Linked DNA regions of Homo sapiens. The protein of the gene in region 1 interacts with the protein of each later gene in a pairwise test. Each region holds a gene or a part of one and is shown on either strand. Other genes may lie near its edges.

What was found.
Region 2: the proteins of LDOC1 (region 1) and CFAP53 interact in binary tests that used the Homo sapiens proteins (3 or more experiments, as listed by UniProt).
Region 3: the proteins of LDOC1 (region 1) and ZNF629 interact in binary tests that used the Homo sapiens proteins (3 or more experiments, as listed by UniProt).
Region 4: the proteins of LDOC1 (region 1) and ZNF564 interact in binary tests that used the Homo sapiens proteins (3 or more experiments, as listed by UniProt).

Annotation. Positions count from the first base shown.
Region 1 is NC_000023.11:141,174,125-141,182,028, forward strand, and holds the start of LDOC1 (protein LDOC1), read right to left. Parts: upstream 3,006-7,904; 5' UTR 2,898-3,005; coding exon 2,457-2,897; 3' UTR 1-2,456. UniProt on the Homo sapiens protein: May have an important role in the development and/or progression of some cancers.
Region 2 is NC_000018.10:50,263,475-50,270,453, reverse strand, and holds the start of CFAP53 (cilia- and flagella-associated protein 53), read left to right. Parts: upstream 1-3,958; 5' UTR 3,959-4,049; coding exon 4,050-4,118; intron 4,119-6,979. Other genes in the region: MBD1 (methyl-CpG-binding domain protein 1), read left to right, coding at 636-825. UniProt on the Homo sapiens protein: Microtubule inner protein (MIP) part of the dynein-decorated doublet microtubules (DMTs) in cilia axoneme, which is required for motile cilia beating.
Region 3 is NC_000016.10:30,784,203-30,792,213, forward strand, and holds the start of ZNF629 (zinc finger protein 629), read right to left. Parts: upstream 3,004-8,011; 5' UTR 2,826-3,003; intron 314-2,825; 5' UTR 281-313; coding exon 208-280; intron 72-207; coding exon of another isoform or gene 53-71; coding exon 1-52. UniProt on the Homo sapiens protein: May be involved in transcriptional regulation.
Region 4 is NC_000019.10:12,527,474-12,534,494, reverse strand, and holds part of ZNF564 (zinc finger protein 564), read left to right. Parts: intron 1-5,798; coding exon 5,799-5,925; intron 5,926-6,130; coding exon 6,131-6,191; intron 6,192-6,578; coding exon 6,579-7,021.

The DNA.
Region 1 (7,904 bases):
TTATCTGGCCTCACACATATTATGTCTCAAATATAATCTCTCTCTTCCAAGGGGTTTTGTATATTTTCCAAGGAGACTGGGAGAAGTGATCAATGAATTCTAAATAACCAGCTGTCTCCTTGATTCAGATTTGGAGGCGGCAGCTCCCTGAAGAGCCCCAGATCTCATTTCCACCCAAGCCTCAGCCTCTTTTATTAAGTCATACGCAACCCTGTCCCCACCCTCCAGAAACAGCTATCCTAGGGGTGAGATATAACTCCTACCCTGAACTTTGCCTGTCCACCACGTAAAACAGCTTTGTTTCTTGCTTCATATAAGACTCCAAAAAGTAAATGGGGTCTTATCATGCTCTCATTTCCATTCTCCCTGAACCTGCTCTGCTCCTCTTCACGCTGACATTTTCCTACTAAAGCCAGGCTCAGAGTCAGAGACTTGCTTTCTGAGACTTCTGTTCCCTGGCCCAGGAGTAACAGCCCATGGTTTGCTGAGTGCTCACCATGTAGCAGGGAAAGTTCTAAATGCTTCATGGGTATGATCTCATTTAATCCGCACCTATGAGGTGATTAATATGAAGACCCATATCTCATTTAATCAACACTGAGGTTTACCAGTACAAATACAATATCTTGCCTCAAAAGGCCTTAAACAGTACGGAAATGTGTTATCTAAATTAATTAAAGGTTATAAAGTCAAGTTGGCTCCAGACATGGTACAATGAGGACATCTGGACAGATATAAAAGAGAACTCTGAACCCCTCATATCCTCCTAAACCTTTCTAAGAGGCAGTCCTCTCAAATCCCCAACCAAGCTGCTCTGCATTAAACATTTCAATGACTTAACCTGGAGCAATGGCCTCACACAGGTATGCAGCTTCTTCTCAGCAGCCACCCCCTTCACTGCTCTGAACCCTCCAGGCCCAGAGATCTCAGCATAGCCCCTAGATAGCAGTACAAGGTCTGATTTAAGAGATAACCAAGCATCTTGCTAATTTCCATAGGGAGGAATCTGGGACACATCTATGAGTGGGAATTCTAAGGATGTCTGTCCAAGGAGAACGAAATGTTTGTTAAGATCAGGCTATATCTTTATGGGTGCACTTGCCCAGGATCCGGGACTTAATGTTAGCTGGAGCACCTGAAAGTGACATGTTGGCTATTTGGAGTTTGAAAGTGACAATCTACTATGTTGGCTCTCTGGAGTCTGAACTCAACAGCTGCACATAGGCAATAAGGATTAAGGGGCAGAACTTCCCTGGCACAGTGTTAAGGAATCCAAAAGCTCAGAGAATTAGGAGCATTACATATATATGTCCAGGTTTACGCCTATTGTTATGGTCTAATTATTAATACTGCTCTCTTTGCCGTCTGCTCAGCCAACCCTTAACCACGCCACCCTGGAGGACCCAGAGAACACACCCTTTGCCAGGGCTTTAAGAAATGCGTTGGTGAAGGGAGCATCAGAACCCTGACAAAGCCCTGAGGTAGCTGTCCCCAGCAGCCTGGAGATGACAGCGGGGAATACTAGGATTGGTTGTATTCCCTGATTTCCACGGGAATAATGGTAGTCAGAGTGACAGTGGTAGAGGCCAGTGATAGCACTTAACCATTAAAAGACAATCATTTCTTTTTTTAGTGCTTGATATTTATTGAAAATAATGCCAATGCTTTTTCCAGGTAGTATTGAGGAGCTGGGCTGAGTGCTTGTTTGTTTTGTTTTTAAGTACTATTTGTCCAAATGCACACATCTGTGGGACTGCTGCAATTTTGAAAGAAAAATGACAGCTGTGTAAAACCAGTGCATAGGAAAAAAGAAGTGTCAACAATTTGGCTGCCAGGCACACCGCGCCCCTGCAGCAATCTGGTGGGGCAGGGGAGGACACTCGGAGTAGGTAGAAAACTAACCAGGCTGAACGGCCCCTTCAGGGGTTGGTGAGCTGTCCAAATCAATGTCTGAAAAGGCATAGCCAACTCTGGCATTTTCCAGGTTGGTCCTGATCTCGAAAGGTGGTAGTCTGTAGGTGGGATGTGGTGAGTGGATGTGAAGTGGCAGCATAGTTCTCTGGGAAGATGTAAGCCTGGCAGCAGGGCAGGTGGCAGCAGCAGGGCTACGGGTGGTCTGCGCAGTTTGTAACAGGGGCCTGGCCAATAGCTGGGGTTCAGGACACAGTTCAGATTAGCAGGGGAGGGATCCCGGGGATGGCCAGGGTAGATGACACTTCCAAGCACTTCCGAGTGAGTGAGGCTCCAGCCCCGACCCCAGCAGCAGGTAACTGGAGCGCTATTCCTGGAACAAAGACAAGCACTACGGAGAAATGAAGAGAGAGAGCAGACGGGCGCGGGTAGGTAAGGGGACCGGAGGGCAAGGGGGAGAGCAGTGGCTCCTGGCGGGGTGAGGGCTGCGGGGAGGGGGTGGCGGCGTGCAGGGCCCTCCCCCCCGAGGCCCGAGGGTCGAGGGCCTAATAATCATCCTCCTCTTCTTCGTCGTCGTCGTCTTCGTCGTCATCCCAGCCAAAGCACTGTTTCATCTCATCGAGGAAGGCCCGGTAATCACCTAGGATGGGGCTATCCATCTCGATGTAGGGCACCACCCACTCCTCGGCTTCCCCGGTGAGGAGGCTGATTAGGAATGCCACCTTCATGGCGTCGTTGCAGAATCGGTTCTCGTTCACGAGCATGTAAGACGCCGTCTGCACGATAAACTCGGGGAGCCGGGAGCTCTCGCCATTAAACGTTTCGGGGAAGGGCACCGGGCAGCTCGGCGGACGTACCTGGCGCAGCAGGCTGGCCCTCTCGCACACCAGCAGCCGCAGCTGTTCCATGAGCTGGCTGTTCTCGATGCTCAGGGCGCGGTGCCGCATCAGGAGCGCGTGCAGCAGCAGCACCAACTCATCCACCATTGCGAACGGCCTGGAAGGACAGGACTCGGCTCGGTTCGGCTCGGCCAAGGTGCGCACGGAGCCCTCGCAGGAAGTGCGTGTCCACGGAGGCGCTTGGTGGCCAGGGGCGGGGGGCGGGGGGCGGTGTGCGCCGGGGTCCGGGAGGCTACGCAAGCTCCGCCCACGAGGCCATTCGGACGGACGGTGCGCCGGCGCGACGGGGGAGGGGCGTGGCTAGGCTGGGAGTGGGGGGGCCGCGGCGGCGTGGGGGCGTGGCCGGGATGGGAAGGGTGTAGACAAAGAGGGCGTGGCCAGGAAAAGGATGCGCTGGGTCGCTGAACCACCGGCTTGTGGTAGGTCTCTCGGCGGGCAGTTAAAGGCTGGGATAGGCTCCCCTAGCTCCTAGTTGTGGGGCCTGCGTTAGCAGAGGACTTGGCGAGCGCTGAGTCCGGTCTCAGAGAAGGTAAATTTGTTCAAACTGAAAGGATTAGCCACCCTTCTACCTAGGTAGCTTGCACAACTCAGTGTTCCTTCGTGGGTCTGTGGCCACTAGATTCTCTTGGCTTGATGTTTTATTAACACATTTTCTTTCTTATTTAAATCTCACTCAGAGAAGTATTGACACTGCTGGCTGCCCTGTGGGAGTCACACTTCCTTTTAGAATCATGAAGACCCTCAGGGGGTCCTGCCTTTCATGAAAAAGGTAGTATTTAAACAGTGACTTCTTTAGTAGGGAAATAATATGGTATACACACACACACACACACACACACACACACACACACAAAACCTAAGTAACAAGATATAAAAAAGTTCTGCAAAATCAGCATCCAATAGTCAATTGCAGGCATCCCACATATCTTTGATTCTCTATTTCTTGTCTTGCTATTAGTGCCGTTGGCCACTGGGTATTATTCTGTACTTAAAAATGAACTGTTAAGATGTTTGTGTTTTTAAATAATTTTGTTTTTCTACTTTGAATGGATCCCTGATTCTAGAGCCAACATGAATTGTTGGCTCTGCTTTCAAATATATTGCCAATTCAATCACGTCTTGTCATTTCTGCCACTGCCACCCTGATTCCTAGCCTTTCTTTCTCACCCAGACTGCTGCAACTAATCACTTAGCTTTCACTCTTTTCTTCCTATAGTATATTCTCCATAGAGTAGCCACGGGAATCCTTTAAAACAAAAATTAGGGCCGGGCGCGGTGGCTCACGCCTGTAATCCCAGCACTTTGGGAGGCCGAGGCGGGCGGATCACGAGGTCAGGAGATCGAGACCATCCTGGCTAACAGGGTGAAACCCGTCTCTACTAAAAATACAAAAAATTAGCTGGGCGTGGTGGCGCATGCCCGTAATCCCAGCTACTCGGGAGGCTGAGGCAGGGGAATTGCTTGAACCCTGGAGGCAGAGGTTGCAGTGAGCCGAGATAGCGCCACTGCACTCCAGCCTGGGCTACAGAGCGAGACTCCGTTTCAAAAGAAAAAAAAAAAGATCCCTTCACTCTCCTGCTCAAAATCCTCCAACAGTTTCACCTGAGAATAAAGAGCAAAGTTGCAGCCAAGGCCTACAAGGCCCCTCCTTCTATCCTGTGCCTCTTCCCAGTTTCTGCTGTGCTCTAATCACTGTCCTCCTTGCTGATTCTCACACCCATCAAGCAGTTCTGGCTTCATAGCCTTTGCATCTTCTATTCCTTCTGCCTTGCAAGGCTGTCATCCCAGTTGGCTGCCTGACTCCTCCTACTGCTTTCAGAGAGAACTTTTCTGACCACCGGACCTATCAGAGCACCCTGTTCTCTGCCCCCAATCTGTAACCCTTTACTCTGCTTCATTTATCTACATAACATTTATTGTGCTACCGGCCACCATGTCGTATGTATATACAGTACTTTGCTCATCATCTGCTTCCATTTTAGAATATATAAGTCAAACACTGCTTTTGCTATCTGGTCTATCCCTAATGCCTAGAAAAGTTCTGGCCCAGAGTAGAGGCTTCATTAATGTTTGGCGAGTAAAATCATCCCAGAGTGAAGATGCTGAGATGAAAATCAGAAGTTGTCGCTGCACAAAGAGTCAAAAAATACTCTTCAAATTGTTAAATGTAAGGTTGGGCGTGGTGGCTCATGCCTGTAATCCCAGCACTTTGGGAGGCTGAGGGGGGCAGACCACCTGAGGTCAGGAGTTAAGACCAGGCTGACCAACATGGAGAAACCCTGTCTTTCCAAAAAATACAAAATTAGCCAGGTGTGGTGGTGGGCGCCTGTAATCCCAGCTACTTGGGAGGCTGAGGCAGGAGAATCACTTGAACCTGGGAGGCAGAGGTTGCCTGAGCCGAGATCACGCCATTGTGCTCCAGCCTGGGCAATAAGAGCAAAACACCATCTCAAAAAGAAAAAAAAAAAAGAAAAAAAATTGTTCAGTGTATTTTATCTCTGACCATGGATCAGTCTCGATTGTGAAACAATGACTGATGTAATAAAACTGGCTGAATAGATTTTTAAAGAAATTCGATTCGGTCCTTTAGGATAGAATTGAATGATCATCCATGGAAGTAGGAGGCTGGGAAAGAGCAGAGAAACAGGGCCAAGCCCCAAGCAGGGACACGGGGAAGATCACAGTGGTGAAAGGATAAGCAGTGAAAAAAAGAGATAGGAGGAATGTGAGCTTTTGGCCTCTCCTGTGCTATGAGCTCCGCCACCTGAGAAGTTGGCAGGCAGGGATCCACTCTCACTCTTAATTTTATCTTCAGCACCTGGCAGTGTTTACTAGCTGCTCCGTAAACATTCAGTGTAAGGATTGAGGGGAGGGATGTGAAATGTGGAAAGTAGGTCTCTGGCCATCATGCCCATTTACAGTTCAGAGTACAGGATGGGCCTGACTGGGACAGAGGTAGTGTCCAGCTTCACCTTTCATATCCAGGCCCTAATACAGGAAGAGTACTCAGGGTTCGACTCCTGGGAGCACACTTTCTTTCTTTCTTTTTCTTTTTTTTAGACAGAGTTTTGCTCGTGTTGCCCAGGCTGGAGTGCAATGGCACAATCTCGACTCACTGCAACCTCCGCCTCCCGGGTTCAAGCGATTCTCCTGCTTCAGCCTCCCGAGTAGCTGGGATTACAGGCATGCGCCACCACGCCCAGCTAATTTTATATTTTTAGTAGAGACAGGGTTTTTCCATGTTGGTCAGGCTGGTCTCAAACTCCTGACCTCAGGTGATCCACCCGCCTCGGCCTTCCAAAATGCTGGGATTACAGGCGTGAGCCACCGCGCCCGGCCTAGAGCACACTTTCTGTAGCAGACACTGGGCCAGGTGATTGGCAGGGCTGTCACAATGACTCATACACAAGGACCAGACATGGGAATGGGCATTTTAGAGCCAGAGACCCAGGAGGTAAATATCTAAACCTAATAAAGCAATAGGTTGATGGTGCTATACCTTCATGCCAACCTCTCTAACTCTAAAGCCCGCCCATGCCCTTGCTCTGAATAATTAATATGTGCTGGACCCTTGTGACTTCAGTGGGCCCAGGCAGGTCTAGTGGGGAACCAGAGATGATTAGGCAGATGCTGCCCTAATTTTCTCCCTACAACCCCACAGCAGAGGGATTCAGGGAGGAAACCAGACGAGGCAACCACTATTGTTCCCTCTGAGTGTGCTCTGAGACCCTGGAAGACAGGAAATGTCCTGCCCAGAACTGAGCAGTGACTTTGGGAGGTGCTTCCCTGGTTGGAGAAAGGGAATGGAGACAAGCAGCTTAGCACTGACTCACAACAGAAGCAGTCAGGAAGAGGTATGTAGTATCAGTTGATAGAAGATGTAGAATCTTAATGCTCATTTTAACCAGCTTCCAGGTGCCTGTGAGGCTCTCCCACCAGTGCCAATGCATATCAGCACTTCCTTCTCCATTCACCCTGCTCACAGCTGCATGTCGCCTTCCTCATTTTCTTTCCCCTTCTCGAGTGGCCCTTAAGTGTTCCTTTCCACTTAACGTGAATATGCTGGGGGCAGACACAAGTACTCCCTGTGACAAGTACTCATAGGGAGTACTTGTCTCGGGCCAGTAAAATTTATCAGGACAGCTCTGGGTTGGAACGCCCTAAGGGTGGCTTAGACTCCACCGTTTGGCAAGAGCACAAGTCCAAGGCACTCACTACCACCATGTTTCAGGCTCCAAACCGTGCCCTGGTACACATCAAGCATCCAGACTGTAAAATTCTCTTGAACATGAAAATTTCCCATGATTCTTGAGCCACCAGATGAGTGTGCACACATCGACTGGGTGAACTAACTCAGCACTCAAATATACAGCCAGGAACAGAAACAGCTTCGGAAAGAATATTTGTGAGAGGACTGCATGAATGCTGCCAAGAGCCAGATCTCTTCCCACATAGACTTCCCCCATCCCCCTTCTTAGCCAGGTGCACCTGGGACTGCTTTTTACAGAAACCTCACTTGGAGGGCAATAGAGACCTCTGGCCCGGAGAGAGGAATGAAGAGGCACAACTTCCTCCCTCCTGTCTTTGCCCTCTCCAGCTTACTAAAGTGCTGGAAACATTTTTACATGTTTATTAATGTACTAAATTGATGTATTCTTATGGTTGAAATACCTTAAATAATATTGATGTCTTAAAATAAAAAAGGAACATTCTTAAGACCTCTCCTTCTCACAAAATATCACTTAATAAGATTGTTGAAAATTCAAATTTTGCCCTCTCTTGTTCTCTCTCTCTAAGGAGACTCAACGCTTCAGTTTCTTAGATGATATAGAAAAAGCGTGGTGCAAATAAAGTCATAGTTCCAGATATAGAACTGGAAAATCAGCTTTCTGTAACTGAAAGATTTTTATGAATTAATGTTTTATATTAAGTATTTTGTATTCTTCATGTATAGGCTTTTGTATTGCCATAATATAGAATTAATTGCCTGCAGTGTGCTGCACTAGATAGTTGTTAGTTTTTCTCTTGCCTAGTTATTTTAATATAATTGGTCACAGTGATTATACAAGAGTTTATACACGTGTTTTGTTTCTG
Region 2 (6,979 bases), on another chromosome or scaffold:
GTTCTAGGAGGCTGAATTCCTGCTTCGAGTCCTGCCCAAGAGCCAGTCTTGGCTCAGCCCTACCTCACTCTCTCCCAATTCTTCATTCATAAAGTGCCAAAAAGATTAGACCTGTAATTTGTTAGCCAGCTTTACAGGGCCAGGACTGAGTGAGTGCCTCCTTAAACTTTGTATCCTGTGTGCCTCCCTTGCCTTACCCTAGTCCCAGCCCTGCAGCTTTAAGTAATTCAGACATGGATTAGCCATTTCCCAGTTCTGTCTCATACAGTCCAGCCTCTGCCACCTTCCCCACCCCTTCCTTTATTCCATCCTAACTAGTTCAGCCCTAGTCAAGACTGGATAGACTGATACTGCTTTGTTTCCCCCAGGAACCAACCACCCAACCCCAGTATTCTGGTAATTTTGACAATGATCTATATGAAATTTATTTGATTGACATTTAGACTCATGAGTTAAGCTTCTGCTGACCATTTATGTTAGGGTACAATCAGAGGAGCAGAACCACTAAGATAAAGATTATGTATATATGTATTTTAAGGGATTTATTATAGGGATCTGACCGCATGCCATTGTGGGAGCTGGTTAAACAGTCTCTGTAAGGCTGTTGTCTTTGCATCTAATGCTGGAGCTTGAAGTCTGCAGGGCAGGCACTCGGGAAGGGAAGATGGATGTAAAGTGTGGGAGACCGAGGACACAGTGGAGCCCACGAGCACGAGCTGGAACCCACGAGGATGGCCTGGAACCCATGTCAGTCTCTCACCACCTCCAGCTTCGATGATGTGGGTGTCCTGCAGAAGAAGCTGGTGCCCTTCCTCACAGAGTTAAATATGCATCTGGCCCAGGAATTAGAGAAGCTGAAAGGATGATCCTGGGGAAGGTGGAGCAGCTGCAGGCCTGGCTGCAGGCCTGACTACTGCCCACACCAACGAGGTGATCTAGCAGATACATGGCAACGTGTGAACTGCAACAACGCCTGGTGCCCCAGCACCAACCTTCCAAGTGTAAAAACAATGTGCTGCTGCTTCACTTCCGCCCTCCGGTTATCAAGCAAAATGTCTCTTGTGGCCCATCTTACTGGAAGAGAGTTCCGGGAAACATAGCCTCACCAAGGTGACACATTACAAAGCCACCCTACCATGAATCCGCTCCCAAGGGTCTCACTGCTCACCTGAGGATAACTCAATATAACTATGTGGCTGAAAATGCAAAGCTGAAGACCATGGATTTCATGGTGATTCCAGCAAGTACAGAGATTCTATGAAGCCCACCCAGAAAAAACTTGCTGGTCCTGGCTATTTTTGTGTCATTTATTCAAGTATTGAGAACCTGGCCTGTGGTAGGCACTGTACTTAATACTAGGATACAGAAATGCAAAAGATACGGCCCATGCAATTTTATTAAATGCATCAATATGTATTACAAATGGTGAATGGATTTCCAACTTTATCATGGAATTTAATGCTGAATATATAGAATTCAGAAAATTGTTGGGAGGACAGCCCTTTTGTGAACCTTGTTTGGGGCACAGTAGGAATTGGAAATAATTTAGTTTCTATCTCTAAGCTGTTCTATTTTAAAATTATTTTTAAATTTTTATTGTCCCACTTACTTACATGCTTAGTGTTTCTTTTGGGAGTGGTTTGGTGGGAACAGTGTTGACTGCCTCTGAGAAACTGGGATAGTGGGTGGGAAGATCAAATCAAGGTCACTTCTTTCCAAGGACCCTGAGCGATTCACTTACCTAGGCCGCGGGGGCGGGGGGTTGGCTGAAGGCTGAGGCTCTTGGTGCTCAGCACTGGCCGGACACCTTCAACCTGCTGGTGGGTCCGCCAGGGGGCGCCGGGGCGAGAAAGCCCGTAGTTCCCAGCCACAGTCACCCACCGGGGCCCTGGAGGCACCGCTCGTCACCCATCACCCCTGGCCTGGCCGCCCTGGGGCGTGGTCTCCGTCCGGCGCAAACCCCAGTACTTGGGCTAGGGCCAGAGGGAAGCTGAGTCCCCCTCTTCAAATAGTGGTAAAACAGGCAAAACCGAACCGGGGTTAAATTTCGGAGCTCGCCCAGGGTGAGGGCGGGGCTCGACGACCTAGGACGTTCGAGTGCGGCCGGGTGTCGCCAAGGGTCGGTTTACCCCATCGCCTCAGAAATTCCGACGAGGCCCTTTGGGCTGCACAACCTTGGGAATCCCCAACGGGCGGCCCCGAATCTGCGCCGATTTTCCCAAGCCGTACTTCGGGCCCAAGGCGTTTTCATTGCCGCCTTCCCGGAGGATGTGTGGTGGGGGTGGTTCCGCCCGGACCGACGGGCGGGCCCGGAGCCCGTTGGACTCGAAGATCAAAGAACCGCCCCTCTGGACACTCCAGGAAACCGAGACGACCACCTAATTTGTTTGTTTTCTGTTTCAGGCCACGTAAACTCTTAGTAAATGCAAATGCGTATTTTACTGAACTGCAATTGAAAGAACCGTTATAGAAAAGAACACAAAATGACAGAATTATTAAAAGAGAAGAAAAACATTATTTCGTGGCTGAAAAGCTGAACCAGCAATTCAGGAAATGGAATTCGTATTTAGAAACATACCACATACAAAATCCGAAGTGGGTGGTTTACAAATGATTAAGGAATGCTAATTTACAGTAAATTGCGTCCTTAAGAGGGCATACACATTAGTTGTACTTATTATATGTCAGTTTGACGTAGGTACTGATTTGTTGCATGTGCTCACAAGTGTTCTATGCTCACCCCCACTTTAGAATGGGAGTATCACAGTGTCATTCTTAATTGGCTTTTAGGTATTACCACCTTGCTCTTGACTGGAAATGCAACTGTGGTTACCACCTGTGCTGCAGGTCCGTCCTGGTTCCCTGATTTGTGTTTCCTGTTCTGCCTGGATCCTGATTCTCAGAAACCAGTTACTGGACTTCTGATCCACATCCTGACCCTGGTCCACTGTGACCCTCAGACTCTTAATTATGCTCCACCAGGTCGTGCCACTGCCCCACTAGTCCATTTGATCTGCCCCCATCCTAGGATATCCTGAGTCTAAGCCCTGGTTTCTGCCAATGGCAAATAGGAAGATTTTATTAACAGGTTTTAAAAAATTATTATTATTACTGGTTATTTGGTTTGACAAGGCACTTAGGCTCCCTGAGCTTTGCCTTAGCTGGAAAATAAGGATAGTATTACTTGCTATTCTATCAACCCTGTAAGATATTTGCGGCCACGCGCGGTAGCGCACCCTGTAATTCCAACACTTTGGGAGGCCGGCGGGAGGGGCAGTGGGGAGGATCGCTTGAACCCAGGAGCAGGAGTTCCAGCCTGAGCAACATAGCGGGACCCCCTGTCTCTTCAAAATTTGTTTTTAAATTAGCAGGGCGTGGTGGCGCAGGCTTTGTAGTCCCAGATACTCTGGAGGCTGAGGCCCAGGAGGACGAGGCTGCAGGGAGCCATGATCACGCCACTGCACTCCACCCTGGGCGACAGAGCGAGACCTTGTCTCAGAAAAAATCTGTGAGGTTAAAAGGCTGTGTGTGTGAAAATATCTTGGAAATTGTAAAGAACTACACAAATATAAGGTTTTCCTGTGATTATTACCGTCATCAAGATTAACCTACAGATAGTGCAAAATTTAAGCTTCCCAAAAAATGTTCGCTAACCTTTTTCATACTTTTAGACCATTACAAGATATAAATAGCAAAGTCAACTGGAATTGTAATTAGAGCTTTGATTTTTCTTGGGCTAGAGGTTTTTTCTGCCATTCTGATGAACCCTGGAGGAAGGGAGCAAGGTCGGCGGGATTTGGCCGAGGGGCGGGGTGAGGACTGCGCAGGCTCAGCTTCTCAGCTGGAAGAGGAAGTCCCGAGTGCAGGCGTCTGCGGCCCCCATGGTGACCAGACCGACTTCCGCCCGACCCGCCCACCTCTACCGGCCCCTAATCCCGCGAGGCGCACCATGGCAACCAGACTTCTGCGTCGCGGAAGCGGGTCCCGCAGGTCGCCACGGTTGGGGGAAACGCGGCGGACGCCGCCCCCGTCCCGAAGGGGACTCGAAAATGTACAGCCAGCGGTTTGGCACCGTACAGCGGGAGGTTAAGGGCCCCACCCCCAAAGTGGTGATCGTGGTAAGCACAGGATATGTCTGCCAGACCCTACAGCTTTCTCCATCTCTCCGCACTCCAGGCCTGGCCTATCCCACTTCGGCCCCCACCCGGGGCCTTCTCGAGGGGAACGGGTGTCGCCTGATGCAGTGGGTTGAATTTTGAAAGAAGGAAGATAAGGTCGCTCACCTATCTACCCCACCTCTCACCCACTCATCTCCCTCTGTTTTCATCCTTACAGCCTTTCATCTGCCCCCAAAGTTATAATATTTAGGTTCTGTTTTTGGAGAATCACCACTAGGGATCTTAGGGTTTTTCAGTCTCCAAGACACCGGAAGGATGTCTGTCCCCCATGCAGTGGCGAGTGTGTGTTATGGAAAGGGCACCCGGCCCAGAGACAGATCTGGGGGCAGGGCGGGCCTATGATTTGGAGCTGGTCTTTCACTCCTAGGAAAATCGTCTGAGGAAGGGGAATTAGGTTGTGAGTGGTTATAGCACCCAACGCCTTTCCTGTGCCAACTCAACCAGTAACCATTGCTGGACAGAAGTGTCCCTTCAGACCTGGGAAAAACTCAGGTGCCTGCCTCTAAGGCTGGAGTGGTAGTAGGCCAGGAAAATGTGCTTGCTGCAGAATTTGATGGTTCCTGCTGAGAACCTCAGACACTATTGGTCCATACATGTAGATTTTTTTGTTTCTACAAATTAGTTTCTACCCACCAGAAAACTAACATGTAGGCAGAGTTATTGCTTGAGCCCCTGCTGTGTGCGCAGTATTGTGGGAGATACAGGGGTGGATACAATGATCCTGGAAGGTTAACTCTTTATTGAAGCCTGAGCCCTCCCTTCAAGGAGCTTATACAAGTCAAGTATCCCTTATCTGAAATGCTTGGGACCAGAGATGTCTAGGATTTCAGATTTTTTTTTTGGATTTTGGAATACTTGCATATACATAATGCAATATCTTGGGGAGGGGACCCAAGTCTAAACACAGAATTTATTTATATTTCATTACCTCGAAGGTAATTTTATTTTCCCCTTGGGGATGCTGAATAAATATGTGTTGTTTGCTTGTGTTTTGACTGTGACCCCTTACATGAGGTCAGGTGTGAAATTTTCCACTTATGTCATCATGTGGGTGCTCAAAAAGCTTCAGATTTTGGAGCATTTCAGATTTCAGATTTTCAAATTAGGGGTGCTCAACTTGTAATCCAATTGCAAAAAAAAACTTAGGTAGAATGAAACCACTAAAGGTTAGCACGGTAAATAATGATGTGCTATATTGTCTGTGATGTCAGTTGATGGATGAAAGATCAGTGATACAGTTTTATTATGCTCCACAGTGCACATAGCAAACTTCAGTCAACCTATAGACCTGCTCCTTCTTTAGGTCCAAGTACTGTAAGATCTGGAGCTGGAAAGCAGTAGATGGGACACATAAGTAGGCTGTAGGGTTCAAGGTGATAATTATAAACACACTTCATGAAGGACAGAAGATCTACTTTGGGTTCTGTATCCAAACACTGGGCTCAGGGGCTGAGCCATTGTTGGGTGCTATTACTTGTGTTGGGAACCAATAAGGAACAGAAAACAAACAAAAACACTAAACCAGAGAAGCGGGCTTATTGAATACTTTGCACCTAAGAAGAATTAAGAGGAAAAGGAGGAGGTTAGAGTTGGTGCATCTGCTCCTCCGGTGTCTGAGTGTGATAAGAAAGATAGATGTTAGAGGTAGCAGAATTGTGTTGCAAGAATTAAAGCCACCAGCAGATGAGACTTGGACCCTAAACAATTCCCCAGGAGAAACCTGTGAAAAATTTAATGTCTGAAGTAATGGGACATCAAAAGGAGCAGCTATTTGATGAGTGTCTCCTAGGAATCCATTAGGAGGATACTTATTTTGCTCATTTGACAGGTGAGAAAACTAAGATTCAAAGAGATTAAGTAACTTGCTCCATTCAATTAGTAATGGACAGAGGCCAGAATCAAACCTAGGATGTAAAGCATTGTTCTTTAAGACAACCGAACTGTAAATTGTAATCCTAATAACTATAACTGGAGATGCTACAATAACAGCCTTCAGTGACCTTGAAAACCCACAGTAGTTAGTAAAATATCCTGTGTTTTCCTGACTTTAGCATGGTTTAGAGCTGTGATGTCCAATAGGTAGCCACTAGTCACACATAGCATTTGAGCACTTGAAATGTGCCTAGAGTCACATATTGACAAGATAACATCTTGGATATATTGGTTAAATAAAATATACTATCAAAATTAACTTCCCCTGTTTCTTTTTACTTTTTTAAATGCAGCCACTTGAAAATTTAGAATTACATATCTGTTTTGCATTATATTTATATTGAACAGTACAGACTTTGAACAATACCACGACTGTGCTGGGATTGGCATCACCTTTTTTGAGAACTCCAGGTCATACCCCTAACTTATCAAGAGATTGGGTCCTTCCCAGACCAGAGTCCTTCACATGATTCCCAAGCCTTAAAAGGCTTCCTGACCCCTTGGGTACTGCTCATGGTATTTGTCACCTCTTCAGCCAAAATATCCCTCAGCCCTGTTTCCTGTCCTGACAACTGGAGCCAGTGTTTCTAGATTTACTTGGTGTTTCATTCCTGTTCTCAGCTCACACTGGGACCCTTAATTCCTGCTGTGTATGCTGCCAAGGGTGCCACTGTGATCCTCCTCTGCTTTATTTTCACAGATCTATATTCATAAAATGCCAACTGTATTGGAGAACAGTCATCTAATTAGCTGGCTCTAGGCTCCAGATAATTATGACATGGATTAGCTACTTTCCATGATATAACCCCCAGCATCATCTTCTGTCTCCTTACCACCCCAGGCTTGCCTTATCTTGTTCAGCTAAATCT
Region 3 (8,011 bases), on another chromosome or scaffold:
TCCCCAGAACTTTCCTGCCGAGGGCTCTCCTCTTCGTTTTCACTCTCGGCACCTACAGAAAGAAAGGGAGTCTACAGCCCCCAGCCCCTTTCAGAACACGGGGTTTGGTCTCTCTTCCCTCCCCCGGGTGTCCCCCAGAGTCCAGGCCCCTCCCTGAGCCGGGACCACCGTCTTGCCGGGACCGCAGCCCCTTCTTGTGCCCCTCACCTCTGTGAGCATCGTTGGGGCTCTGTTCCGGACCCTGCAGATCCGGGCCCCACAGCGCAGTCTCGGGCTCCATCCCAGAGCTCAGGACTGCAGTGTTCCAGGGACCCTGCGGGGGAAGACAGCGATGAGCGCACACTGGGAGCTGATTTTGCACTTTGCTTTATTCCCCCTGAACCTCACTCCCACCCTGCCCCGCCCCATTCCTCCTTGTGTGAACTTCAGTGTCCTCCCACCCCATTTTTCTGGGCACGGGTTCTTGCTGTGGCCCCCTTCCCCTGCAGGCCTGATTCTCACTCCAGATCTTAAGCGCACAGCTAAGCAAGCAGGTGAATTTAAGAGCGTAATTAAAAACTCATCACTCATAAGCCTTTGAACCCAGGATGGGGGCTGGAGCGGTCTCTGACATCCACAGGGGAAGGAGTTTTTCACCCCATACCTCTGATGCCCAGAGGCTGGGAAACCTGTTATTTGCTAATCAGAGGAAGCTCATTAAGACTCTAATTTTCCTCTTAATGGGGCTGCTAATTGAGACCAATAAACTTTTCTGTGCCCCAGAGTGAACCGAGGCTGCCTGAGACACTTAAAGGGTTAAGAAAAAAAAACACCCCAGTTTCCCAGAGGAGACAGAGGCCCTCTAAAAGGACTGGGGCACTTCCCTGTTATCCAAGCACAGAAAGAGGGTCAGGCTGGAGGTGGGGAGAGGGGCAGTTTAAAGCTGCATCTGCAGGAACCGCCCAGAGGAAGAGAAAAAGTAAGGAGAAGGGGAGGATGGATGCTTGTGTGAACACCTGCGGCAGACCCAGTGCCTGCCATGGTGTCATTTCTCTCACCCAGTCCTCCCACAGCCTGGTGAGGAGACCCAGGAATCAGGCTGTCCATTTTACAGATTAGTACATCAATGCCTGGGGAAACCTCTCCAAGGTCAAGGCTGGGAAGTGGCAGAGCTAAGATGATAAAAGCAGGGCTCCATATCTGGCTCACCCCTGTCTCTGAGAGCACGAGGTGACCTTGGGAGTCATGTGAGACTCATGCTCATGGGAGGCTGGCAGGAGACAGGTGATGAGGACAGCTCATGGGGAGCCTGCTGGCAGTGAGAATAGGCTGGAGAAATTCCTGGGACCCAGAGGTTTCCCAGGCTAGAAAAGGAGGAGTTGGACCCAGGGACTAGGCCTGCTGGTCTGCACCCATGAGCTGGAACCATACTCCCCACCAAAGCCCTCCTATCCCCACTCCTGCCCGGACCCTCCTTCTACTCCTTTTGTCCTGCTTTCTTGAGGCTGTTTCCCAAGCCTAGCCTGGCACTGAATAGGTGCTCCAGAAACTTTGTTGAATGAATGAATGAGTGAGATGTCCCTAGCCCCTGGAACACCTGTTTGGTCTAATGCCTTTAAAGATCAGTTTGCAAGGGGATGGCAGCAAAGGAGCAGGAGTTCCAAGTGGCCCCCTGGTAAAATAAATAAATAAATAAATAAATAAATAAATAAAAACAGCCAGCTGTCACTCCAAAAATGGTGAGATGAGTTCAGGATGAGGGAATGGGGCCACAGGAACAAAGCGCTTGAAGGAGGTCCCACACCATTTACACCCTGCAGAGAATCCCTGGGTGGGGCCTGGAAACTTTGGATGGCTGTGTGAGGTGGGCGCTGTGTGCACAGGGGCAGTGGGGCAAGGGAGACATGGCAGGAGGCGCTGAGAGGTGACCAAGGTGAAGCAAGACTGGCTGCACCCTGCCAAAGAGCGGTAGGAGAGACAGAAGTTAGCGTTTAGGAAGTAAATTAATTTCTTCATCTCTGCAGCTACTTAAGCTCCGAGAATCCCCCCTCCCCGCCTGTAAGTGTCTTTGGGGTGGTGGAAGCGGAGACCTCTGCCACACTGGGGGCTGCCTGATGTCCGGTCCGGGAAGGATGCCCTGCTGTGTTTGCTCGGGACAGGTAAGAGTTTGTGGACCTCGATGGTCTCCAAAAAATTCTCCCCTAGTGGTCCAGAGTAGGAGGGAAAGGGTTAATGACAGGGCCGACACAGAGCATGGACGTGGGAAGACCGAGGGAGGCCGAGGCGCTGGGAGCCCAGGCGCCAGGCACGCCAGCCTGAGACCTCGCGATGGCCCCACTGCAGAGGGAGGGAATGAGGAGCCGCCTCCCGAGAGATGTGGGGAACGGCCCAGGGTGACCCTGACATGGAGGCGGCGGGAATGCGGCCGCCCGGCCCGGCCCCCCCACCGCTTGGCTCCGGACTTCTGCTCCCCCGGAGCCGCGACCCCCGTCCCGCTGCTGATACAGAGCCTGGGCATCCGCCCCTGCCCCGGCCCCCGGGGTCCCGGCTCCTTCCAGCACTGCCAGGCTCCTCCAGGGCTGCGCTGGCAGCGCTGGTCCCCGGCCCCGGCCGATCCCTCTTCCCAGAATCCCCAGGCTCCCCTCCCCCGCCACCGACCCCCGCGCTTCCCAGAATCCTCGGCCCTCCGCGCCCCCCGCCCGCCCCCACCCCGGCCACAGCCCCGGGCGCGGGTGGGGGGCTCAGGCCCGGGCTCCCGGCCCCCGCCTCCCGGGCCCCATTGTTCCCCGGCGGCCGTCCCGGGCACTCCAGGCCACCCCCCGGGAACCCAGGCGTCCCCAACTCACGGCTCTGGGGTCTGGGAAAAGCCGGAAGGCGGAATCCAGCCCCAGGGGACTTAACCCCTTCAGTGCCCTGCCTCGGGGGACGGACTGGGCGCCGAGGACTCTGGGGTCCTTCTCAAGGGGTGATTCCAGGCTGAGGACCCGGGGACCAGTTCAGGGTGACTGGGACGGAGCAGGAAGTGACCCCAGCTTCCCGGGCCCCTCTAGCCTGGAGTCAGAGCATCAGCTCTATGGGATTTAACCCTTTGCCTCCCGCAGCCTGGGGAAAAAAGGGGACAGCGGTGGGAGCAGGGAGGAGGCTGGGACGACGCCCCTGTCCCCGTCTCCAGTGGGAGCAGGCAGCGTGGGCATCTGGGAGAGCCCCGATGCCCGCGAGGGTCCCTGGGCTTCTGGCCGCTCTTCATTTCGCAGGGGCTCCGCCGGCCGCGCCCGGAAAGCCCTATCTCAGATTTGGCGGCTGCTGATCCCCTGAGGCCAGTCTTTGTTTGGACTAACCCTGGGATGGGGCTGGGGTGGGAGCAGGGGCTGGCAGAGCAGACCTGAGAGGGAACACCCTACGCACTAAACATGGCCTTAATGCTTGATGGAAGTCATGGCTGCAGGAGTTGGGACTGCAGGAACAAGCACAGCCGGGAAGGATTTGCAATAGCCTGTGTTCCAGCCCCTCTTCTCCAAACACCTCCCCTCAGAGGAGGAAACTGAGGCTCACGGTGGCAGGAAAGAAGCCAGTGGGGGTTCCCTGGCCAAGGAGGGAGAACCTCTTTTCTCATAGCTCAGAGGGCACCCGGCTCACAGCAGAAGAAACCTTTAAAAACCCAGGAACACTGGTGGCCTCTCAACGTCCAAGTTATCTATGCTCGCAATTTTTACAGCCTTTCTTTCTTGTCTTCCTTATCACAGTCCCATGGGATAAGGTTGCCCATCATCCCCATTTCACCGGGGAGGAAACCAAGGTGTGAGAAGCGACTGGTGTACTTAAGGCCACCTGATTCTTTCAGTTCAACACACTGCATTATTATTCCTGGGCACTGTGGTTAACACTGGGGTGGGCATACCTCTGAGATGCATGGAAATTGGGCTTTCTACCCTTGGGAAGTTTGGTATTGTGTATGTGTTACAAACACAGAGGAATCCTGGGAGCGTGCAGAGGGCTCTGTCCAGAGACTGAGAGGCTGGGGGGAAGAATAAACCAAAGGTCAGAAATTACTAAAGGCAGCTGGGTGCGGTGGCTCACGCCTGTAATCCCAACCCTTTGGGAGACCAAGGCAGGCGGATCACTTGAGGTCAGGAGTTTGAGACCAGCCTGGACAACATGGTGAAACCATGTCTCTACTAAAAATACAAAAATTAGCCAGGCGCAGTGGCTCATGCCTATAATCCCAGCACTTTGTGAGGCCGAGGCAGGCAGATCGCTTGAGCCCGGGAGGCAGAGGTTGCAATAAGCCAAGATTGAGCCACTGCACTGCAGCCTGGACGACAGAGTGAGATCCTGTCGCAAAAAAAAAAAAAAAAAGAAGGAGGGAGGGAGGGAGAGAAAGAGAGAAAAGGAAGGAAGGAAGGAAGGAAAAGAGAAAACAGGAAAGAGAAAAAATTGCTAAAGGCCAGGCCTGGTGGCTCATGCCTGTAATCCCAGCACTTTGGGAGGCTGAGGCAGAAGGGTAACTTGAGCCCAGGAGTTTGAAGGCTGGGCAACATAGTGAAACCCTGTCTCTACAAAAAACTTAAAAACAATTAGCTGGGCAGGGCGCGGTGGCTCATGCCTGTAATCCCAGCACTTTGGGAGGCCAAGGTGGGTGGATCACCTGAGGTCAGGAGTTCAAGACCAGCCTGACCAACATGGAGAAGCCCCATCTCTACTAAAATACAAAAATTAGCCCAGCGTGGTGGTGCATACCTGTAATCCCAGCTGCTTGGGACGCTGAGGCAGGAGAAGCGCTTGAACCTAGGAGGCGGAGATTGCAGTGAGCTGAGATCGTGCCATTGCACTCCAGCCTGGGCAACAAGACCAAAACTCGGTCTCAAAAAAAAAGAAAGACAACAACAACAACAAAAACAAACAATTACCCTGGCGTGGTGGTGCATCGCTATGGTCACAGCTACTTGGGCTGAGGCAGGAGAATCACTTAATTCTGGGAGGTGGAGGCTGTAGTGAGCCATGATTGCACCACTGCACTCCAGCCTGGGTGGCAGAGTGAGACCCTGTCTCAAAAAAAAAAAAAAAAGTCCGGGCAGGGCACGGTGGCTTATGCCTGTAATCCCAGCACTTTGGGAGGCCAGGGCGGGCAGATCATGAGGTCAGGAGATTGAGATCATCCTGGCTAACATGGTGAAACCCTGTCTCTACTAAAAATACAAAAAATTAGCCGGGAGTGGTGGCACATACCTGTAGTCCCAGCCACTTGGGAGGCTAAGGCAGGTGAATCTCTTGAACCTGGGAGGTGGAGGTTGCAGTGAGCCGAGATCATGCCACTGCACTCCAGCCTGGGTGACAGAGCGAGACTCTCATCTCAAAAAAAAAAAAAAAAAAGATGGTTTGGCGAGGTGGCTCACACCTGTAATCCCAGCACTTTGGGAGGCTGAGGTGGGCAGATCACTTGTGGGCAGGAGTTCAAGACCAGCCTGGCCAACATGGTGAAACTCTGTCTCTACTAAAAATACAAAAAATTAGCTGGGCATGGTGGCGTGCACCTGTAATCCCTGTTACTCAGGAGGCTGAGGCAGGAGAATCACTTAAAACCCAGGAGGTGGAGGTTGCAGTGAGTCGAGATGGCGCCACTGCACTCCAGCCTGGGCAACAAGAGCAAGACTCAGTCTCAAAATAATAATAATAATAATTTTAAAAAAAATTAGGCCGGGCGCAGTGACTCACGCCTGTAATCCCAGAACTTTGGGAGGCCGAGGCAGGCGGATCATGAGGTCAGGAGATCAAGACCATCCTGGCTAACACGGTGAAATCCAGTCTCTACTAAAAATACAAAAAATTAGCCGGGCATGGTGGCAGGCGCCTGTAGTCCCAGCTACTTGGGAGGCTGAGGCAGGAGAATGGCGTGAACCTGGGAGACGGAGCTTGCAGTGAGCCGAGATCGTGCCACTGCACTCCAGCCTGGGCGACAGAGCAAGACTCTGTCTCAAAAAACAAACAACAACAACAACAACAAAAAACACACATTAAAAATTGCCTGGCATGGTGGCTCATGCCTGTAATCCCAGCACTTTGGGAGGCTGAGGCGGGAGGATTACCTGAAGTCAGGAGTTCAAGACCAGCCTGGCCAACATGGTGAAACCCCATCTCTACTAAAAATACAAAAATTAGCTGGGGCTGGCTGGGCGCAGTGGCTCACGCCTGTAATCCCAGCACTTTGGGTTGCTGAGGCAGGCGGATCACGAGGTCAGGAGTTCGAGACCAGTCTGACCAACATGGTGAAACCCCGTCTCTACTAAAAATACAAAAATTAGTTGGGCATAGTGGCGCACACCTGTAATCCCAGCTACTCAGGAGGCTGAGGCAGGAGAATTGCTTGAACCCGGGAGGTGGAGGTTGCAGTGAGCAGAGATCGCACTACTGCACTCCAGCCTGGGTGACAGAGTGAGACTGGACATAGTGGCATGCACCTGTAGTCCTAGCTACTCTGGAGGCTGAGGCATGAGAATTGCTTGAACCCAGTTGGTAGAGGTTGCAGTCAGCTGAGATCATGCCACTGCACTCCACCCTGGGTGACATAGTAAGACTCTATCTCAAAAAGAAAAAAAAATTAAAAATTGAATTTCTTGCTTCTTTATTGATTGATTGATTGATTGAGACAGAGTCTCGCACTGTCACCCAGGCTAGAGTGCAGTGGTGCAATCTTGGCTCACTGCAAGCTCTGCCTCCCGGGTTCACACCATTCTCCTGCCTCAGTCTTCTGAGTACCTGGGACTGCAGGCGCCTACCACCACAACCAGCTAATTTTTTTGTATTTTTAGTAGAGACAGGGTTTCACTGTGTTAGCCAGGATGGTCTCAATCTCCTGACGCTGTGATCTGCCCACCTCAGCCTCCCAAAGTGCTGGGATTACAGGCCTGAGCCACCGCGCCTGGCCTGAATTTCCTGCTTCTTTGGAAAATCCAAAGATGTGGCAACGTGATCCACATTTTCACATGTCAGTAACTGGCTGTTGCTGGGCAGCTTGCGTCTTTACAGGGCACTGACCTGCCAGCTGGTCACCATCCCTGTCATTCCTCTGTGTCCCCAACCCTGAGGCCAAGGTGGCTTCATTATATGAATGGTCCTTCACTGCTGATGTTCCAACTCCCGTTTAACTGTAGGTATAGATTCTGGACCCCTTAGTCTGTGTCTCCAAGGTTCAGAGTAATTTTTTATTTTTAGAGACAGTGTCTTGCTGTCACCCAGGCTGGAGTGCAGTGGCACGATCATAGCTCACAGCAGCCTTGAATTTCTACGCTCAAGCAATCCTCCCACCTTAGCCTCTCAAGTAGCTGAAGCTACAGGTGCGTGCCACCATGCCTGGCTAACTTAATTTAAAATTTTTTTGTTCCTCACAAAACTTCTTCCTGAATAATTTTTTAAATATTTTTATAGAAATAGGATCTCACTATATTGCCCAGGCTGGTCTCAAACTCCTGGATTCAAGCAGTCCTCCCATCTTCACCCCGCAAAGTGCTGAGATGATGGGCATAAGCCACCACGCCCAGCTCCAGAGTAACACATGAGGATGGTGCCTGCTGACATAGTTACATTTATTGAGCACTTATGCACTAGGCACTGTGTTTGCATGTAATGACTCCTTAAACCTCCACAACTCATGGCACCATTATTATTATCATCCTGGGACAGAAAGGGTAAGTCACTTGCACACAGGTCACCAGTGGCAGGAGTGGATTTAAATCCACGCACGGTGACTTCAGAGCCACCGTGGATCCTAAACACGTCTCTCCTGCTCAGATGGGCCCAAGCGTGTCTGGGACCCAAGGGTGAGCCTCTCAGTCCCTCCGTCTTCTCCCTCAGAGTTGGAGAGAGGAGCTGGGAAGGGCAGGGCACCCCCATTTGGGCCAATACATCCTCCAGGAAGAGTCTGGGTGTCCTGCTCCTAGGGATATAAAGGCTGCCATGTCCTCTTGCCCTCAATCAGCTGGCATCGCAGCCATGGCAGCAACCTGCCTGGCAGGGGAGCTCTTGCAGGGATGTAGAG
Region 4 (7,021 bases), on another chromosome or scaffold:
AAAATAGGTGCACTGTTTTCCATTCCCACAAGTAACAAATGAGGGTTCCTATTGCTTCACATCTTTGCCATCATTTGGTGTTCTCAGTGTTTTAAATTTTAGCCATTCTAATAAAGGTTGTGTTAGTCTTTAATTTTTAAATTTGTAATTCCCCAGTGACAAAATATGCATGTTTTCATATGTTTATATGCCATCTATATATTTTATATAATCATGTCTTATGCAGCAAAGACAATTTTATTTCTTCCTTCTAAATCGATATACTTTTTATTTCCTCTGTCTTGTTGCTTATCTAGGACTTTAAGGATGTTGTTGAATAGTAGTGGTGAGAGAAGACATTCTTACCCTGTTTCTGGTCTTGTGTAGAAAGCATCTAGTTTCTCACTGTTAAGTATGATGTTAGCTGCAGGTTCCTCATTGATGTTCTTTCTGAGGAGGAAGTTCTCTATTCCCAGTTTGCCACCGTGAGTGGATGGTAGATTTTGTCAAATGTTCTTTAGTTTTTACTTTTGCCTCCTTTCATTTCTGATCTTAGTAATTTCTTTTTTCTTACCATGACTAGAGGTTTATCAGTTTTATTGGTGTTCTCCAATAACCGACTTCTGTTTTTTTTTTTTAATCTCTATTGATTTCCTGCCATTTCATTGACTTCTCCAATTATTCTGTCTGTCTGTCTGCTTACTTGGGTTTAATTTGCTCTCTTGTTTTTCTGTTTTCCTGAAGTAGACTCTTTTCTTTTTTCTGTTTTTTTTTTTTTTTTTTTTTTTGGAGACAGCAGCCTGCTGTGTCGCCCAGGCTGGAGTGCAGTGGCATGATCTTGGCTCACTGTAACCTCCATCTCCCAGGTTCAAGTGATTCTTGTATCTCAGCCTACTGAGTAGCTGGGATTACAGGCATGCGCCACCACACCCAGCTAATTTTTGTATTTTTAGTAGAGACGAGGTTTTACCATGTTGTCCAGGCTGGTCTCCAATTCCTGGCCTCAAGTAATCTGCCCGCCTTGGCCTCCCAAATTGCTGGGATTATAGGCGTGAGCCACTGCACCCAGCCCGAAGTAGACTCTTAGATGATTCATTATAAACCCTTGTTCTTTCCTGGTGTAGGTGTTCAATGCTGTAAATATTCCTCTATGCACTGCTTTTGCTGCATACCCTAATTTTTGATAAATTTTGTTTTCATTTTCATTTTAGGTCAAAAATTATTTTTGATTTCTCAGACTTCTTTGATCCATGTGCTTATTTAGAATTGTGTTGTTTAATCTCTAAAGATTTGGGGGAGTTGGTAACTATCTCTGTTATTGATTTCTAGATGAATGACTTGTGGTCTGAGCATACTTTGTATGATTTTTTAAAATTTTTCATATTAAGGTGTGTTTTATGCCCCAGTATTTGGTTTATTTTTGTGAATATTCCTGTGAACTTGAGAAGAATTTGTGTTTTGCTATTGTTAGATGAAGTATTCCATGCATTTCAATTAAATCCAGTTGTTTGATGATGCTATTTACTTTACTATGTCCTTTCAGATTTTCTGCCTGTTGGATCTCTTAATTACTGCTGGAGGGGTGCTGCAGTCTCCAACTATACAAGTAGATTAGTGTATTTTTTCTTTGCAGTTCTATCAGTTGTATTTTGCCACATGTATTTTGCAACGCTTGTTATGCAAACACACACTAAGGGTTGTCAGGTTTTCTTGGCATGTTGAGTCCTTTATCATTATGTGATGCTCACTTATATCTCTTTATTTATTTTAAAAATTTAATTTATTTTTTTTAGAGACAGAGTCTCACTGTGTCTCCCAGGCTGGAATGCAGTGGTGTGATCATATAGCTCTTTGCAGCCTTGAACTCCCAGGCTGCAGCAATCTACCTGCCTCAGCTTCTCAAGTAGCTGACTGCAAGTTTGTGATACCCCAACTGGTTAATTAAAAAAAAAATTTTTTTTTTTTTTTTTTTTTTTTTTTTGAGACGGAGTCTCGCTCTGTCGCCCAGGCTGGAGTGCAGTGGCGCGATCTCGGCTCACTGCAAGCTCCGCCTTCCGGGTTCACGCCATTCTCCTGCCTCAGCCTCCCGAGTAGCTGGGACTACAGGCGCCTGCTACCACGCCCGGCTAATTTTTTGTATTTTTAGTAGAGACGGGGTTTCACCGTGTTAGCCAGGATGGTCTCAATCTCCTGACCTCGTGATCCGCCCGCCTTGGCCTCCCAAAGTGCTGGGATTACAGGTGTGAGCCACCGCGCCCGGCCAAAAAAATTTTTTTTTTTAAATTTTTTTTATAGAGATGAAGGTCTCGCTGTTCCCCAGGCTGGAGTGCAGGGTCTATTCACAATAAATTATAGCGCATTATATCCTTGAACTCCTGGTCTCAGGTGATCCTCCATCTCAGCCTCCTAAGTAGCTGGGACCATAGGCATGTGCCACTGCACCTGGCTTATCTCTGTGTTTTTTCCTTTCTCTGAAGTGTACTTTGTGATATTAAGATAGCCATGCCATGTTTCTTTTAATTAATGTTAGCATTTTATATATTTCCCTATCCCTTTACTTTTAATATGTGTGTCTTTGTATTTAAAGTGGTTTCCTTTTAGCCAACATACTATGTTTTTAAAATCCACTATAACAGCATCTGTCTTCTAATTATATTTGGACTATTGACATTCAAAGTGATTATTGATACAGTTGTATTAATATCTACCATATTTTTTACTTTTTTCTATTAGTTGCCCTTGCTTTTGTTTCTTTTTTTGTCTCTGACCTTCCTTCTTGGGCTTTAATTGAGCATTTTACCTGAGGTGTGACATATTTTGTAATCATATGATTTGTTAGTGAGCCTTTGTTCCTGGCCTGGGTTGTGGCCTTCTGTGGTATTGTAAGAAAGATATGTGGTCTTTTTTCCTCAGTGCCTACCATGGTTCTCCTATTTTTTTTTTTATTTTTTTTGGAGACAGAGTCTTGCCACCCAGGCTGGAGTGCAGTGGCACAATCTCGGCTCACTGCACTTTCCACCTCCCAGGTTCAAGTGATTCTCCTGCCTCGGCCTCCCAGGTAGCTGGGGTAACAGGTGCGCGTCAACATGCTTGGCTAATTTTTGTATTTTTAGTAGAGACGAGGTTTCGCCGTGTTTCCCAGGTCAGACTCAAACTCCTAACTCAAATGATCCTGACTCAAGTGAACTCAAGTGATCTGCCTGCCTCAGGCTCCCAAAGTGCTGGGATTACAGACATGAGCCACCATACCTGGCCAGCATTCAGAATTCTTGTTAAAGGTTAGGGAAGCTATCATGTTGTTCTTCAGAAGACTTTGACCATTGTTAGATATTCATTATTCCTGCTACATTTGGAGAAGAACTTTTTGTTGACTCTTCAACAGTTTTTAGGGGATTTATAGAATTTAAAAAATATTTTGTAAGAGGCTATCTTGAGGACATTTCATTCTTTCTCAGAACCCATCTTTCCAGCCAGGTGTGGTGGTTTACACCTGTAATCCCAGCACTTTGGGAGGCTGAGGCAGGAATTTGAGATCAGCTTGAGCAACAAAGTAAGACCCCATCTCTACAAAAAATTTAAAAATTAGCTAGACATGGTGTCTTGCGACTATAGTTCTAGCTACTTGAGAGACTCAGGAGGGAGGATCACATGAGCCCAGGAGATCAAGGCTTCAGTGAGCTGTGATCATGCCACTGCACTCCAGTGTGGATGACGGAGCAAGTTCCCATTTCTAAGAAAACCAAAAGAACCCATCTTTCCCCTTATTTTATTTTGCCTTGACATTACACAATGTAGTATCACATAGTGACTGGTCAGGAATCATTTCCTCTTGAAATTTGAGAAAGAGGATTTTATGTTCTTTTGGAGAAAAGCACTGCTGATCCCTTCGTGTATTTTATAATCATGGTCAAATTCACCATCAAACCATCTGGACTTGAATGAAATCCCTCAGAAATTGCAACTCTTAACCTGTTCCTCAAGGTTAGCAAGTCATAGGGTACCTTGTTATGTATCTGCCAGAAAAAACTCTTCTGGCATTTTGTCTTCTTAGTATGTTTGTGTATGTAAGGTAAAAATAGGTGGGAAACTGCCCTTGACGTTCATGACTGGGGATTTTGCTGGGTGAGGGGGCGCTGCCTAAGTTGCCATACCTTCTTCTTCATGCCTGAGTTCTGTCTTCCCAGTAGCTTCCTAGCCTAGTGAAATGGGACAGAGTCAAAGGAATCAGTGAGTCTATAACAAATGTTATACATGCAGGTTAAAATGACTTCTTTTGCAGAGGAATATTTTCTTTCAACCAACTTGATCTGTCTACGTCTGATGGCCTGGAATCCTTCAGGAAAGTGTGGTCAGCTGGATTTTGTCAGAACGTGGATTTCTACGGGCCTTCTGGCCTCTCATGTTTGATGAAGGGAACAGAAGAAAATGGTTTCACTTCTTCAGTGTATATTTATTTATTCATGGATACCTTTTTCAGTTTTTATCCTGTGTTTCTTTTTTTCTTTCTTTCTTTCTTTTTTTTTTTTTTTTTGAGACAGAGTTTTGCTCTTGTCACCCAGGCTGGAGTGCAGTGGCACAATCTCTACTCACTGCAACGTCCGCCTCCTGGTCTCAAGCGATTCTCCTTCCTCAGCCTCCCAAGTAGCTGGTATTACAGGTGCCCACCACCACGCCCAGTGAATTTTTTGTATTTTTAGTAGAGACAGGGTTTTGCCATGTTGGGCTGGCTGGTCTCAAACTCCTGATCTCAGGTGATCCGCCTGCCTCTGCCTCCCAAAGTGTTGGGATTACAGGCATGAGCCAGTGCGCCTGGCCTACCCTGTGTTTCATGGAATGCTGATTGGTGTGAGATATGAAAGGAAATGGAAGTTTTTCCTGGTAGGAATGATGATCTTAAATTTTTTTTTTTTGAGACTTAGTCTCTCTCTGTCCTCCAGGCTGGAGTGCAATGGCATGATCTCAGCTCACTGCAACCTCCGCTTCCTGGGTTCAAGCTATTCTCCTGCTTCAGCCCCCCGAGTAGCTGGGATTACAGGTGCATGCCACCATGCCCGGCTAATTTTTTTGTATTTTTGGTAGAGACGGGGTTTCACTGTGTTGGTCAGGCTGGTCTCAAACTCCTGACCTTGTGATCCTCTTGCCTCAGCCTCCCAAAGTGCTGGGATTACAGGTGTGAGCCACCAGGCCTGGCCAAAATTTGTTTTCTTTGTATAGCATTTTATTTGTTTCTCCAAGGTGAACTGGATCCTGCCATTAGAGACCAATAAAACTTGTAGTGACTACAGTAAAAATGTAGAGATCAGTTGCATGTTTTCATGGGGTAATTAAATTTATGAGAAAGTGAATGTAGACGGAATTCTGACAACCATATTTATTTATCATAAAATAAATGTTTGGAGACTGCCACATCGTTTTGTCGACTTTTTTGTTTTGTTTTTTGTTTGTTTGTTTGAGATGGGGTCTCTCTCTGTCAGCCAGGCTGAAGTGCAGTGGCGTGATCTTGGTTCACCGTAACCTCTGCCTCCCTTGTTTAAGCGATTCCCCTGCCTCAGCCTCCTGAGTAGCCGGGATTAACAGGCATACGCCACCACGCCCAGCTAATTCATATATCTGTAGTAGAGATGGGGTTTCACCATGTTGACCGGGCTGGCCTCAAGTTCCTGACCTCAGGTGATCTGTATGCCTTGGCCTCCCAAAGTGCTGGGATTACAGGCATGAGCCACCACACCTAGCCATTTGTGAACTTTTATGAATTGGGTTTACATCCCTGTACTGTCATCTCATTCTTCCTCCTGCATTGCATATTTGGGATGTTTTAGGACTCAGTGGCCTCTGAGGATGTGGCTGTGAACTTCACACTTGAGGAGTGGGCTTTGCTGGATCCTTCCCAGAAGAAACTCTACAGAGATGTGATGCGGGAAACCTTTAGAAACCTGGCCTGTGTAGGTAAGGATGACATCATTCCTTCTTTTAGTCAGTTAGAGAAGAAGTATTTCTTGCTTTTTAATGCTTTTTCATGATGTCTAATGTGGAAAAGGGAATACTTGGGTGAATAAATCAGGGTTGTTTGCACCTTATCATGAACTTAGAATCTAGTCATTTTTCTGTAATGTCTATCAGTTCATAAGGATTTTTTCTGACTATATTTTAGGAAAAAAATGGGAAGACCAGAGCATTGAAGATTGGTACAAAAATCAGGGGAGAATTTTAAGGTAATTTGCACTGACAAGATAAAGCAATGTCTCCTTCTTAGTATGTCATGAAATTTTAAAAATAAGTAAACAAACCAGTAAGCCCAGCTTCAGATTTATTTATTCCTACAACTTTTTCACCAGAAAAAGAAAAAGTGGCATAGATGTTCAGTGTTGCAAAATCATTCACTTGGAAATAGTATTAAGAAACTGTATATATGGATATCACTTTTTTGGTGATAGCTACTGTCAAGCTCTCTTGCAGAGCATTCCATCCATTCACTTTCAAACAATTCATACAGGCCTGAAAACTTACCCTTTCCGCGATTATGGTAAAAATGTAAGTCGAATACCTATTAATAAATATAAAGTCACAAACCACTAAATCTTGCTTTCTATTTTTTCCAGAAATCATATGGAAGAGGGACTCAGTGAAAGTAAAGAATATGATCAATGTGGAGAAGCCTTCAGTCAGATTCTCAATCTTAATCTGAACAAGAAAATTCCTACTATAGTAAGACCATGTGAATGTAGTTTGTGTGGGAAAGTCTTCATGCATCATTCATCCCTTAGTAGGCACATCAGATCTCACCTTGGACACAAACCATATGACTATCAGGAATATGGAGAGAAACCATATAAATGTAAGCAGTGTGGGAAAGCCTTCAGTTCTTGTCAATCCTTTCGAAGACATGAAAGAACTCACACTGGTGAGAAACCCTATGCATGTCCGGAATGTGGGAAAGCCTTCATTTCTCTCCCAAGTGTTCGAAGACACATGATTAAGCACACTGGAGATGGACCATATAAATGTCAGGAATGTGGGAAAGCCTTTGATCGCCCAAGTTTAT